Linked DNA regions of Homo sapiens. The protein of the gene in region 2 purifies or fractionates together with the protein of the main gene of each other region. This does not show direct contact. Each region holds a gene or a part of one and is shown on either strand. Other genes may lie near its edges.

Region 1 (3,500 bases), on a different chromosome or scaffold from region 2:
TTACGTTGAGAACCTGTGATCAGGGAAATAGGTATGAGCTCCAAAATGAAAGCAAAGGGCACTTCAGCTCATGGTTCTGTTTTTGTTTGTTTTTTTTTTTTTTTTTTAAGAGAGAGGGTCTCATACTCTTGGCCAGGCTGGAGTGCAGTGGTGCCATCATAGCTCAATGTAGTATAGAACTCCTGGGCTCAAGCCATCTTCCCACCTCAGCCTCCTGAGTACTAGGACTACAGGTACGTGGCTTTTTTTTTTTTTTTTTTTTTGTAGAAATGGGGTCTCACTTTGTTGCCCACACTGGTCCTGAAATCCTGGCTTCAAGCGATCCTCCCACCATGGCTTCCCAAAGCACTGGAATTCTAGGTGTGAGCCACCTTGCCCAGTCCATGGTTCTATTAATTGTTCTCAGTACAGGAAGCATGAAGAAGAGGCCACAGAGTCTCCTCCAGAAGGTAGGAAGCCAAAGCATTGGGGTTCCTTTCCTGTTGGACATGCTGGCCCTGACAGCTGCCTCCTTGTCCCTGTTCTTCAGTCTGTCTTCTCACTGTGGTCTTTTCCTGTCTTTTCCTGGGCCAATCACTTGAGGTCAGGAGTTTGAGACCAGCCTGGCCAACATGGTGAAACCCCATCTCTACTAAAAAAAAATACAAAAATGGCCAGGCACATTGGCTCATGCCTGTAATCCCAGCACTTTGGGAGGCCGAGGCGGGTGGATCACCTGAGGTCAGGAGTTTGAGACCAGCCTGGCCAACATGGTGAAACCCCGTCTCTATTACAAATACAAAATTAGCCGGGCGTGGTGGTGCACACCTGTAATCCCAGCTACTTGGGAGGCTGTGGCAGAAGAATCACTTGAACCTGGGAGGCGGAGGCTGCAGTGAGCTGAGATCATGCCACTGCACTCCAGCCTGGGCAACAGACCGAGACTCCATCTCAAAAAAACAAAACAAAAAAAATTAGCTGGGTGTGGTGGTGGGCACCTGTAATCCCAGTTGCTTGGGAGGATGAGGCAGAAGAATCACTTGAACTTGGGAGGCGGAGGTTGCAGTGAACCAAGATTATGCCACTGCACCACTCCAGCCTGGGCAACAGAGCGAGATTCTGTCTCAAAAAAAAAAAAAAATTAGCTGGGCATACTGGCCTGCACCTGTAGTCCCTTGCTACTTGCTTGGCTGAGGGGAGAGGACTGCTTGAGCCCAGGAGGCGGAGGTTGCAGTGAGCTATGATCATGCCACTGCACTCCAGCCTGGGCGACACAGTGAAACCCTGTCTCAAAGACAAAATAAAGATAATCTAGTGATAGAAAATGTGGAGAATAAAATGACTGAAGAGGCTGGCGGAGTGGTGGAGGGAGCAGCAGCTGCAGCAGCTGCAGCAGCAGCAGCAGTGTGCTCATTAACAAGAGCCACAGAAAGACCTGGGAGTCCCTTCTGGGAAAGGGGTACACATTTAGAAAGGAGGCCAGAGCCAAAAAAAAGAAGCGAAAGAGTGTAGGACCCAGAAGCATTAAATAGAGTCCAGACAGAAATGAGCATTCAGCAAGGAGGAGGCGGGTCCCCAAACATCATTAGGCCTGGCACTTGCAGAAGGGCCATGTTTGGGAAACTCACAGAAGCACAGGCTCATCAGGGACTGAACTTAAGACAACTTCTCTCCAGACCCAGACACACAGCCTGGTAAGATGGCAAAGGGCTGGACAGAGCAATGCGTGAAAGGAGGGGCCCATTTGTTCTGCTGCTTCCAGATGGTACCTGCTTGCACGTCTTGGTCCCCAGAAGCCTGGCTATTGAACAGAAGTTGTTGAAGTAGGTGCCATGGAAGACTCGAAAAAGAGATTCTTCAGCCCCAGTCCATTCCACAGGCTCCGAGGGTGCTTCCACTACGCAGAGTTGAGGTGGGGCTGGACTAGCCTTCTGTTTTGTGGGAGTCTGACAGCGAGAGTTAGCCTCTGAGAAGGGAAGAAATAACAGAATCAGAAGAAGGTAGAATGCAGTTGTCATCAGTAGTTTGTCACAAACTCAGAAGTACTTCATTCTACTTTAAAAGGTAGAACAGTTAGGAATGAAAATATTCCCTATCTTTAGGCCAGGCATGGTGGCTCACGCCTGTAATCCCTGCATTTTGGGAGGCCGAGGTGGGTGGATTGCTTGAGCTCAGGAGTTCAAGACCAGCCTGGGCAACATGGCGAAACCCTGTCTCTACTAAAAATACAAAAATTAGCCAGGCAGGGTGGCTCACGCCTGTAATCCCAGCACTTTAGGACGCCGAGGCAGGCGGATCACCTGAGGTCAGAAGTTCAAGACCAGCCTGGCCAACATGGCGAAACCCCGTCTCTACTAAAAATATAAAAATTAGCCGGGCGTGGTGGCAGGCACCTGTAATCCCAGCTACTTGGGAGGCTGAGGCAGGAGAATCGCTTGAACCTGGGAGGTGGAGGTTGCAGTGAGCCAAGATAGCACCACTGCACTCCAGCCTGGGCAAAAAAGCGAGAGACTGTTTCAAAAAAAAAAAAAAAAAAAAAGAAAATATTCCCCATCTTTACTGTTTACAAAACTTGTAGAAAGAATTTATAATTTTTAAGAGGTAGTAAAGTTAAGTGTCAGGCAGTGATCCTGGGTTTACCAGAGTCCTTGCATGGAAAGAAAAAGTCTTCATTTTCTGTTCATCGTACCTGAAGAACTGGAGGCCCAGTCATTGCCTGTGTCCCTGTCACTGTCTCCTTCTTTAGTCTCAGCCACAGCAGAGGCTGAGGCATTGGAGCAGGAAGCACTGACTATGTGGTGCCTTCTCCGGCGACGACCAGAGCACTTGGAGCGGGGGTTGTGGAGCATGGCATACTCCTTTGCTCCTTCCTGCAGTGGACACATTACAGACAGGAAATAGGAACAGGCCCATCACCATATTGATCTCATCATCACAAACTTTCATCTTTACAACATCTGTCTACAATAATAGTGTCTTTTCTTTTTCTCTGTACCATATAATAAGTATGATCATATAACAATGAGAGCTGCTTAACAAAACTTACGTACTTTTTCACAAAAGAGTTGTCCTATAATGTTTTTTTGTTTGTTTGTTTTTTTGAGACAGGGTCTCTCTCTCTTGCCCAGGATGGAGTGCAGAGGCCTGCTCACTGCAGCCTCGAATTCCTGGGCTCAAGTGATTCCCTTGCCTCAGCCTCCCAAGTAGCTAGGACCACACGCACATGTCACCATGCCCAGCTAATGTCCTATAATCTTAAAAAAGATATAATCTATGCATCTGTGTCTTCAATTTTCCAGTGAGTTGTATCTAAAATTAACTTGCGTGTTACTTGTTTGGAATTTGAGAACACATTCTCCTATGGATGAAGAAATGAGATTCAGAGAGGGGAAGAAACTAGCTTGAGAGTATGCAGCTAATAGTTCCAGAGGGGTATAGGAATCAGGGCTCCTTGTCTCCCTAGGCCACTATTCTTTCCAGTCTACCACACTTTCTCTGTTTCCTTAATAAAATGTGTAATG
Region 2 (2,306 bases):
GGCACCCAAGCCCCAGTCTCGCTGCACCTCTACCCGCTCAGCAGGTGAGGCCCCTTCAGAAAATCAGAGTCCCTCAAAAGGCCCTGAAGAGGCCAGCAGTGAGGTTCAGGACACAAATGAAGTGCATGTGCCTGGTGATCAGGATGAACCACAGACATTGGGCAAAAAGGGCAGCAAAAACAATATCTCTGTTTATATGACCCTAAATCAAAAGAAATCTGACTCTTCCAGTGCTTCAGTGTGTAGCATTGATAGCACAGATGATTTGAAATCTTCCAACTCTGAGTGTAGTTCTTCTGAAAGCTTTGATTTTCCTCCAGGCAGTATGCATGCACCTTCCACCTCCTCCACTTCCTCCTCTTCAAAGGAAGAGAAAAAGCTCAGTAATTCCTTGAAAATGAAAGTCTTTTCCAAAAACGTCTCTAAATGCGTCACACCAGATGGCAGGACCATATGTGTAGGGGACATTGTTTGGGCCAAGATATATGGCTTCCCTTGGTGGCCAGCCCGTATTCTTACTATAACTGTGAGCCGGAAAGATAACGGCCTTTTAGTCCGACAGGAGGCCCGTATTTCATGGTTTGGGTCTCCAACAACATCTTTCCTTGCTCTTTCACAACTCTCCCCCTTTTTAGAAAACTTCCAGTCACGCTTTAATAAGAAGAGAAAGGGCCTGTATCGCAAGGCTATCACAGAGGCAGCTAAGGCTGCCAAGCAGCTGACCCCCGAAGTGCGGGCTTTGTTGACACAGTTTGAAACGTGAACATGGGCAGTAAGGTAGGCAAGACCATTGGAAGTCACCACAGATTTTCTAGTCTAGTTAGGAATAATTTCTACAAAATAGCGTGGCCAGATTGGAGAGAGAAGTTGCACTCAGTTGGCTGGCTTTTTAATACTTACCTTATAGCCATTTTTAGACTGAGAGCTTAAACTGAACATATAATCAAATTTTGTGTTAAGGAAGTGAGATTTTAGCAGTATTTTTCAGTTTTGAAGTTCGAAACCATCCCAAGGCATAGGAGCCATAGCCTCAACTGAAATTGAATTTTTGTAGGGACTGTTAATTGCCATTTGTACCTAATACTGTATATATACATATATATACGTGTGTGTGTGTGTATATATATATATCCGTGTATGTATATATACACACATATATATGTATATATACACATATATATATATGAAATACAGCCTGTCACTGTGTGACACAGATTGCATATTTGGGATTGCAATAAGGGCTTGGTGAGCTGGGGGAATAGTGGATATTTAATGACTACTTGTTTTTTAAATAATGAACACTTAGCCTTTCTATGCGCATAATGGTGTAAAAGTTAGATGGTTAGGTGTTTGACAAACAGATGGTTGCAATTCAGTTACAGACTGGGGAAATAGCCCAGTGTTTGGGATTAAAACTGTCAAGACTGGATAGGTGTTAGTCATCACTGTCTTTCGTCCAGTGGGGATTTAATAAATACTTTCAAGCTTCTGGTTTGGGAGTTTAGATAGGTTTGATTTTGGATTTGTAAATAGTGATTGCTAAATTTGGTCAGATTTCTCCTGACTGGCTGTTCCTAAATTCTTAGGATATGTCCCAGTAAAATTATACTTTGTGAATTAATTGTCATATGTGTAATTGTTGCATTTTGGATGTACCTAATTTGATAATTAAAACAAAATAATTTCCGTTTAAGGTATCTGTTTGCAGGTCAGAAAATGAGAAAATGTAATTGTGTAATGCTCTGAAATGTAAAAAAAAAAAAAAAAACCAAAAAAAAGCTGTAAATAAAATCAACTAAATCCAAATTATTTGTGTGTGTTTCTCAAAAAGCTTTGAAAAATTTCAAGATGGTAGAAAATTATTCTTTGTAAGAGTGTTTAGAAGAGATGAAAAATCAAACTTTTATTTTGCTATTTGCCCTATCAGGGAATATATTATCTGAGATAAGAAAACTTCAAATAATGAGAGATGAATCAGTATATTCTCAAAATAAGATTTTGTAGTATAGAGGTTTGATAATGCTTTTAGATTTGATATCCCCTTCCTGCCAATTTCTCATAAATGTGTGAATTTTAATTTTTAGTCTTAATATTTCATCACATGCTTCCTTTTTTTACATTCGGGTAATTACAACCGGTCTCTTCTGTTTGGTTTTCTGCCTCATGTATCACTGCTTTTGGGGCTAGTAACTTAGCTTACTATTTTTCTACATGGTCCATCTGTCCCTAAGATTTGATTTCTTATTTTCCATTTTTAGCTTTGTATTAGTAGTGAGAAATATATCTGATTGGCTGTGGAGGCAAGT
Region 3 (3,500 bases), on a different chromosome or scaffold from region 2:
ACAGTAAATAGTGACCAATATCCCACTCTGATGGACAATAATTAGAAACAGTGTAACTCAATTTGCTCAAACACGCAAAATGATAGCAAAAAGTCACCAAATGGCTACTGTAATTACCAAAGGCCATAAATTATGAGTATGAAACACACTAAATAACATATCAAATTTTAATTTTGTTATTATAAGAAATATTAAAAACATCATCATCAAGGTCATCTTGATGACAGTTTAATTAAAAGTTCTCTCTGTATTTCATCACCATCTAAAGAAATCATTAAATCTAAATTCCATTTCTATTTGTCCAAATCACTTTATATTTACAGACCTTCCTTGAACTTTCCCACCATTTAAAATGAAAAAGTCTTGCACATACTTTTTACCAGGCAGATAGACATAATGTGAGAACTAATGATCTAATTATTCTTCTAACATATTTCCAATTTTCACTCAAAAGTAATATAAGGTTTTCCAATGTGTTACCAGGATAACACTGGAAAAGAAAAAATCATTTCACATGAAGAGCAATTCTCAGGAAGTAACATATTAGATAGATTAATTTGTTTTCTACTTTTATATAAAATAAAATAGGCACTTCTGGGAAGGCTCCTGAGATTATAAAGGATTTCACAAAAGATAACAAAAATGTACACAGAACTTTACAGCATCCTTAAATACTTTTTAGGACATTCTTAAATATTTTTTGGAACACAGAGGGACATAGATAATGTAAAACTAAAAAATTACGTTGAAAACCTGTGATCCTAACAAAAATGAAATTGTGCATTTAATTATAAGATGCATACGTATAAACAGCACCTACATTAAAGTTGGTTAACAGGATATATTTAACATATAATCAATTATTCTGAAAAGTTATGTTTTGGTACTAGTCATTTTAAAGATTAAAAAAATCAATGTACTAATGATACTAACAACTATTATTTATTGATTTTATTTTTTAATTCTTTTTTAGAGGAATGGTCTCACTGTGTTGCCCAGGCTAGAGTGCAGTGACTATTCACAGGTGTAATCACAGCATACTACAGCCCTGAACCCCTGGCCTTAAGCAAATACCCCATCTTAGCCTTCCAAGTAACTGGGATTATAAGTACATGCACTGCTACTGGCTTGATTTTATTTTAAACAAAAACAAAAACATTATTTTTACCTCCGTGGTTTTCCCATAAGCCGCCGAATTTTTCCCCATTCTACTCTTGTTAACTTTCTTGTTTTCAAATTAGGAAAAGATTCCTTTAGACATACACAGAAGTCATTATCACCTTCAAAAAGTGGTCTGTAAAACAGATATAGTATTTTAATGGTTACATACAATGTGTTACTTTCTTAAAACACATAAAATCACAAAATGCTAAACTTTCACTTCTACCCCATATATATATATAAACTGGCACAAATTCAAAGTGCTAAAACTAAATCCTTGGCATTTGTGAAACATCTAATGTCGTGTAAAAGTTGCTCAGGAAATATTATTTGTGTTGTGATTCCAAGAGACACTGATTTTTGTTCAATCTCTTATACAGGTATATCCTTTGGGAGGCTATCGTGGCCCTGGCCTTGTATCAGGTGAAGATAAACCAAGTTAGCTACAAAGTATCTTTGTCCCAAAGGAATACCATCACCAAGGAGTCCTCTTTGGAATTAAACCAGTCTTGGGACACTGGAGGACTCCAGAGGGTTAGATTAGCTTGGGGGATCCCAGAAGAACTCAGATTACACTGAGACACCCTGAAAACTCTCTTAAGCCTATGGACAAAAATAAAACAATTCTATTCATGAGTCTGGGAAACCAGGAACCAGTGTTGGCAATGATACATAAATGCCTTGGGCTCAAATATGAACATTCATGAGATTCACAAGCTCCAGAGTAGGCAATTGGTATAGAAAACAGAGAAGGGAAGAAAATATAAATATCCAGCAGAGCAAGCAGCAATGACTGGCATATGAGGAAGGATTATAAATAAGAACTTTTCCTCAGTAAATTCCATTGTTGAATAATTGTATTTCAGCCAAATCTCATACTACGTCATACTTAAGCATATGTGTATACCTAGCGTGCTTAAGTACCACATCCAAACTAGAAAGACTACCCTCTTAAAAATCTTAAGCCATTTTTACCATTAGTAATGGTTTCTCTATGATTATACCAGCACTTAACATCTCAATTATAAAATGAATCTCATTCACTGCAAATAATGGTGTTTTAAGGTATCTCTACTCCATAGTCTTTAAGAATTCTAACACAGAAATTATACCGTAATCAATTCTTCACAAAAATGTACAGTTTTCTTCCCCAAAAAGGATAACAGGGAAGAAAACTATGACAAATAGAATAGATCCAACTGGAATGTGGAACAGAAAAATGAATTTAGAGAAAAATAAGATCAAAGTAGACCTATAGAAAATGTTGTAGCTTAAAACACTTGAAAAACTTAAATTTCTGATTCAAGTAATATTCATAATATAAGCCATGATACATACTTATCTATATTTGAATAGAACCACTCGTATATACACCATTTATGTGCTTTAGGAAGCTTGAGCAGATTACGTAATCGAAAACCAATCTTCTGTGAAGCTTTCTTATCTGGTGTTGACATTGTTGCTGTAAATTTCTATACAATAAAAAAAAGAGATTAATTTATGGCTCCATTAAGTAAAAATGAACATTTATAACCCTGAATAAATTTGCAAAAGGTAAATTATGTTTAAGTACTTAAAAAGGTTCACTGATTCACTGATATTCAACATGGAATTTTGTTGCTGTTTTAAACACTCCGATTATTTTTGATTATTGCCTTTTTTTTTTTTGACAGTCTTGCTCTGTTGCCCAGGCTGGAATGCAGTGGCACAATCTCGGCTCACTGCAACCTCTGCCTCCCGGGTTCAAGCTACTCTCTTGTCTCAACCTCCCAAGTAGCTGGGACTACAGGCGCACGCCACCACACCCAGCTAATTTTTGTATTTTTAGTAGAGATGGGGTTTCACCATGTTGGCCAGGCTGGTCTCAAACTCCTGACCTCAGGTAATCTGCCTGCCTCAGCCTCCCAAAGTGCTGGGATTACTGGTGTGAGCCACAGCGCCCAGCTTAGATGGATACTTTTTTAACCTAATAAAACATTTCTCCCCACTCCAACCCAAAAACCAGTATCGTAATATTAAAAGACGATGAGAACGACAAATATTTCAACTACCACCACTAACCTAGTATGACAAAGATTTCAACTACCACCACTATTTCATAACACTGTTTTGAAGGAATTGGCCAATCAGGTAAGAAGAATAAAATTTAGAAAGAAGATAAAACTACCATTTCCTTGTAGGTGAAAACTCAAGAAAATCAACTGTAACAATTAAAAACAGTAAGAAAATTTAATGAAATGGGTAAATACAAAGTTGATATACAAAAACCATGATTCAAAAAAATCACTATATGTAAATAATAACTGGACAGGCCATAAGAGTTTATATCCTGTTTATAA
Region 4 (3,500 bases), on a different chromosome or scaffold from region 2:
TAACAATTAACATCAATCCATGCATATGTAAAAAAGGCCTAAAAATATTTCTTAAATAACAAACCTAAAATGTAATAAAAAGATTTATTCCTTACATTCTTTTACATAATCACTAAGTTTTTAATATAACTACTAAACAAAGCTAAACAATGAACAATAAATCATCAATTGACTAATTAAGTACCAGAAGGGGAAGCAGGTATGTTATCAATTACTAGTGTGAATTTTAAGTAGTATTTAAAATATCAATTGCCATATTTCAATTGAAAATTATACTTTTTATTTTTTCCCCTGCGGGCATCTGATATACCGAAAGAAGCAGAGTTTAATACATGTTCCAAGCATTCCCCAGGCTTTTAATTCTAAAAAGGAAATGTCCTAAGTACAACTTCTATTTTTAAATTCCAGAAATCATCTGGCATTAGTCAGATAACTCATACAGGAAAAAAAAATCTTTTTTATGGAAACACAGTGTCAAAAGCATACCATGAAGTCATTCAAATGTCAGCTCCTGAGAGGTCTTCCCTAACTACTCTACCCACTCCTCAGCTAATTGTTATATCAACTGCACAGTTCTTTTAGAGTAATTATTATAATCTGTAACTATCTTCTTAACTGTTTATCTACATATATATGATTCCACCTCCCCTAAAGAGGCTCCAGGAGATCCATATTTCTTTTACCATTGTATTCTCAGGGCCTAAAATACCATCGGGTATATTCATTCATTCATTCATTCATTCATTCAACAAATGTTGTCTGAACACTTCCTATACACAAGGAAGTATGCTGGGGAAAAAACTGTGACCAAAAGAGATATGGTTCTAGCCTTTGTGGAGCTTACAATCCAGTCAGGAGATAGACAAAATTAAAAAGTACAAATTGAGTGAAGTGCTATGAGTAAAACTAATAGGATACAATGCTGAAGATAAGAGTGGGAGGGAGACACACTCAACTATGATAATGAGATTCTCAAAAGGAATCTATTACCCAAAAATGTTAAGAACCACTGCTCTACAGGTCTAGGCAGCTGCTCTGGCAGTTAATTCCCCAGGGCAAATACTGCTGCAATTTCCTCACAAAATAAAAAGTTTAAAGGAATCATGGGGTTAAAAATAAAATGCAATTTTTTTTTTCTTAGAGATGGAATCCTGCTCTGTTGCCCAGTGTAGTGGTGTGATCATGGCTCACTGGAGCCTCGACCTCCAGGGCTCAGGTGATCCTCCCACCTCAGCCTCCCAAGAGGCTGAGACTACAAGTACACACCGCCAAGCCTGGCTAATTTTTGTATTTTTTTGTAGAGATGGGGTCTTGCCATCTTGCCCAGGCAGATCTCAAACTCCTGGGCTCAAGTGATCCTCCTGCCTTAGCGTCCCAAATTGCTGGGATCATGCTAGGCATGAGCCACCATGCCCAGCCTAAACAGAAATTGGTCTCTTATCGATTACTTAAGCTGTTTAAATGTGACTAGAAATTCCTTTCCTAAGTATTTCAAATATGTTTTTCTTTTTAGTCTAGCTTCATTGTCCTTAGAAGGATTAGGAAATCTCACCTATAGTGAAAGAAGGCAGAAACAGAGAAACTTATCCTAAACACCATCACATTTTGGCAGTGATTTTAGACTTCCAAAAAAAAAATCAAGGAAGTGTAACTTGATATGAATTTTACTAAGGCATATCAGCATTCTGATCTCTCTCCTCAGAAAATGCACATGCAGAATTTTGCACATAATTTCAGAGGATTCACAGAATCTCTGAAGCCAATCCACAAATTCCAAATACCTCCCCTATAGAATGACAGAGCCCATAAAAAACACTGCATAAATACTTTTTTGAGTTACTGATCCATTATTAGCAATAAGAATGTAGCTGAACACTGAAATAATTATACCACATTCAGAAATTTTGAAACTTTTACGTGAAGCAATGACTCCAGAAGAATTCCTCATAATTTCAGGCACGGTGTTCACTGATGAAATAAAACCACTGATTCAAGAGTTCTTTAGTACGTAGATAACAACCCTGATTCAACAAGTCTCCAAAGAGAATATTTCCCAACTCAGACTAAATGACTTACGTTCCGTTTTCACTCTGTGTGGCCCCAATGTAGCCATTGCCTTAATTAAAAAAAAAAAAAAAGAGGAAGAAAGAAGTCTGAGTTCAGACTGAAAATATATTTTGGTATCTATTTAATATATACAATATTACCGATTAACTCCATAACAAAGACAGTAAAGTATAACCATTAGCTGCTCTAACAAATTTTTAATGTCTAAGACCATAAAGAATATGAGGGATAACAATTTCTCCTAGAGGTGTTTTCAATACCTGAAATAATCTCTAATTCTCAACTAAGAAATTTACAAAAATGAAAAAATGTAATATGGAAAACAAGCCTCCACTTTCAGGCAAGAAAAGAAAAGCCTATGATTCTTGAATGTTTAATGATAGGATGCAAGACACATAAGGGTTCAAATGTTCTTTTGTTCAACAAATATTTATCAAGTGTTTTCTATAAGCCAGGACCAGCCAAAGGACTAGGCACAGATGGTGATGTTATTATTTTTGGGCAGACTAAATAAATGTTTTTTGGACTTTTCCATAAATTATTAGTTACATTATTATAGAAAAAATACAATCAAACTGCTGACATGTCTCTAACTCTTAAAATATCCTTGTAGTTCACTGCTATCTGTAATAGTATTAAATTGCCTTAGAAAAATGTTGCAAAAGCAAAGCATATTTACAATAATATTTTGATGTACTAACAAAAAAAACATAGAATCTTAAAAAGTAGACTATAAAAACATACTTGTGTTCCACTGCTCATTAATCATACCTTCCTAATTGTTGTCCAGTCTTCAAGAATATCAAGATCTTGTAGCATATAAACTATATATGGACGTTGAATAGTCAAGGTCAATTTAGCTGTAAGAATATCACACTTTGAATTATATTTCCAAAGTACTACATTTCAGAAAATGGAACGATGATTTATGAGCATAATGCTTTGGCATCCTAAATTCTGACTTCAAATTATTCTTCAAACCACTTAGTACCAGCATAAATACAGTCTAGTACTTCTGATGTCATAACTACATGCCCTTAATTCCATGATATCATTGATTGTAATATACATCACTAACACAATCACTGGTTTTTAAGGTGGAGGGGAAAAGATGGGGGTAGAGGGATGGTACCATAGAGAATGCCGAAACTGAATATACGTATTAATTTACACTCCAATTTTGGAAACATTTAAAAATGTTTTTAAAAAGTATACGAGGCTAGGCACAGTGGCTCATGCCTGCAATCCTAGCACTTTGGGAGGCCAATGCAGGCTTAAGCCCAGGAGTTCAAGACCAGCCTGGGCAACACGGCAAAACCCCATCTCTACAAAAAATACAAAAATTAGCCAGGCGAGTGGCACGTGCCTGTAGTCCCAGCTACTTGGGAGGCTAAGGTGGGAGGATCACCTGAGCCCGAGAGGTTGAGGCTAAG

What was found. The genes of interacting proteins can lie anywhere in the genome.
Region 1: the proteins of PWWP2A (region 2) and EZH1 purify together in Homo sapiens (affinity purification with mass spectrometry, with the first as the bait; one large-scale study listed by BioGRID). This does not show direct contact.
Region 3: the proteins of PWWP2A (region 2) and LIN9 purify together in Homo sapiens (affinity purification with mass spectrometry, with the first as the bait; one large-scale study listed by BioGRID). This does not show direct contact.
Region 4: the proteins of PWWP2A (region 2) and BRMS1L purify together in Homo sapiens (affinity purification with mass spectrometry, with the first as the bait; one large-scale study listed by BioGRID). This does not show direct contact.

The regions. Positions count from the first base shown.
Region 1 is NC_000017.11:42,710,541-42,714,040, forward strand, and holds part of EZH1 (histone-lysine N-methyltransferase EZH1), read right to left. Parts: intron 2,850-3,500; coding exon 2,669-2,849; intron 1,946-2,668; coding exon 1,749-1,945; intron 1-1,748.
Region 2 is NC_000005.10:160,090,839-160,093,144, reverse strand, and holds the end of PWWP2A (PWWP domain-containing protein 2A), read left to right. Parts: coding exon 1-763; 3' UTR 764-1,806; downstream 1,807-2,306. UniProt on the Homo sapiens protein: Chromatin-binding protein that acts as an adapter between distinct nucleosome components (H3K36me3 or H2A.Z) and chromatin-modifying complexes, contributing to the regulation of the levels of histone acetylation at actively transcribed genes.
Region 3 is NC_000001.11:226,285,165-226,288,664, forward strand, and holds part of LIN9 (protein lin-9 homolog), read right to left. Parts: intron 2,634-3,500; coding exon 2,500-2,633; intron 1,295-2,499; coding exon 1,169-1,294; intron 1-1,168. UniProt on the Homo sapiens protein: Acts as a tumor suppressor. Inhibits DNA synthesis. Its ability to inhibit oncogenic transformation is mediated through its association with RB1. Plays a role in the expression of genes required for the G1/S transition.
Region 4 is NC_000014.9:35,864,338-35,867,837, reverse strand, and holds part of BRMS1L (breast cancer metastasis-suppressor 1-like protein), read right to left. Parts: intron 2,904-3,500; coding exon 2,839-2,903; intron 2,117-2,838; coding exon 2,077-2,116; intron 1-2,076. UniProt on the Homo sapiens protein: Involved in the histone deacetylase (HDAC1)-dependent transcriptional repression activity. When overexpressed in lung cancer cell line that lacks p53/TP53 expression, inhibits cell growth.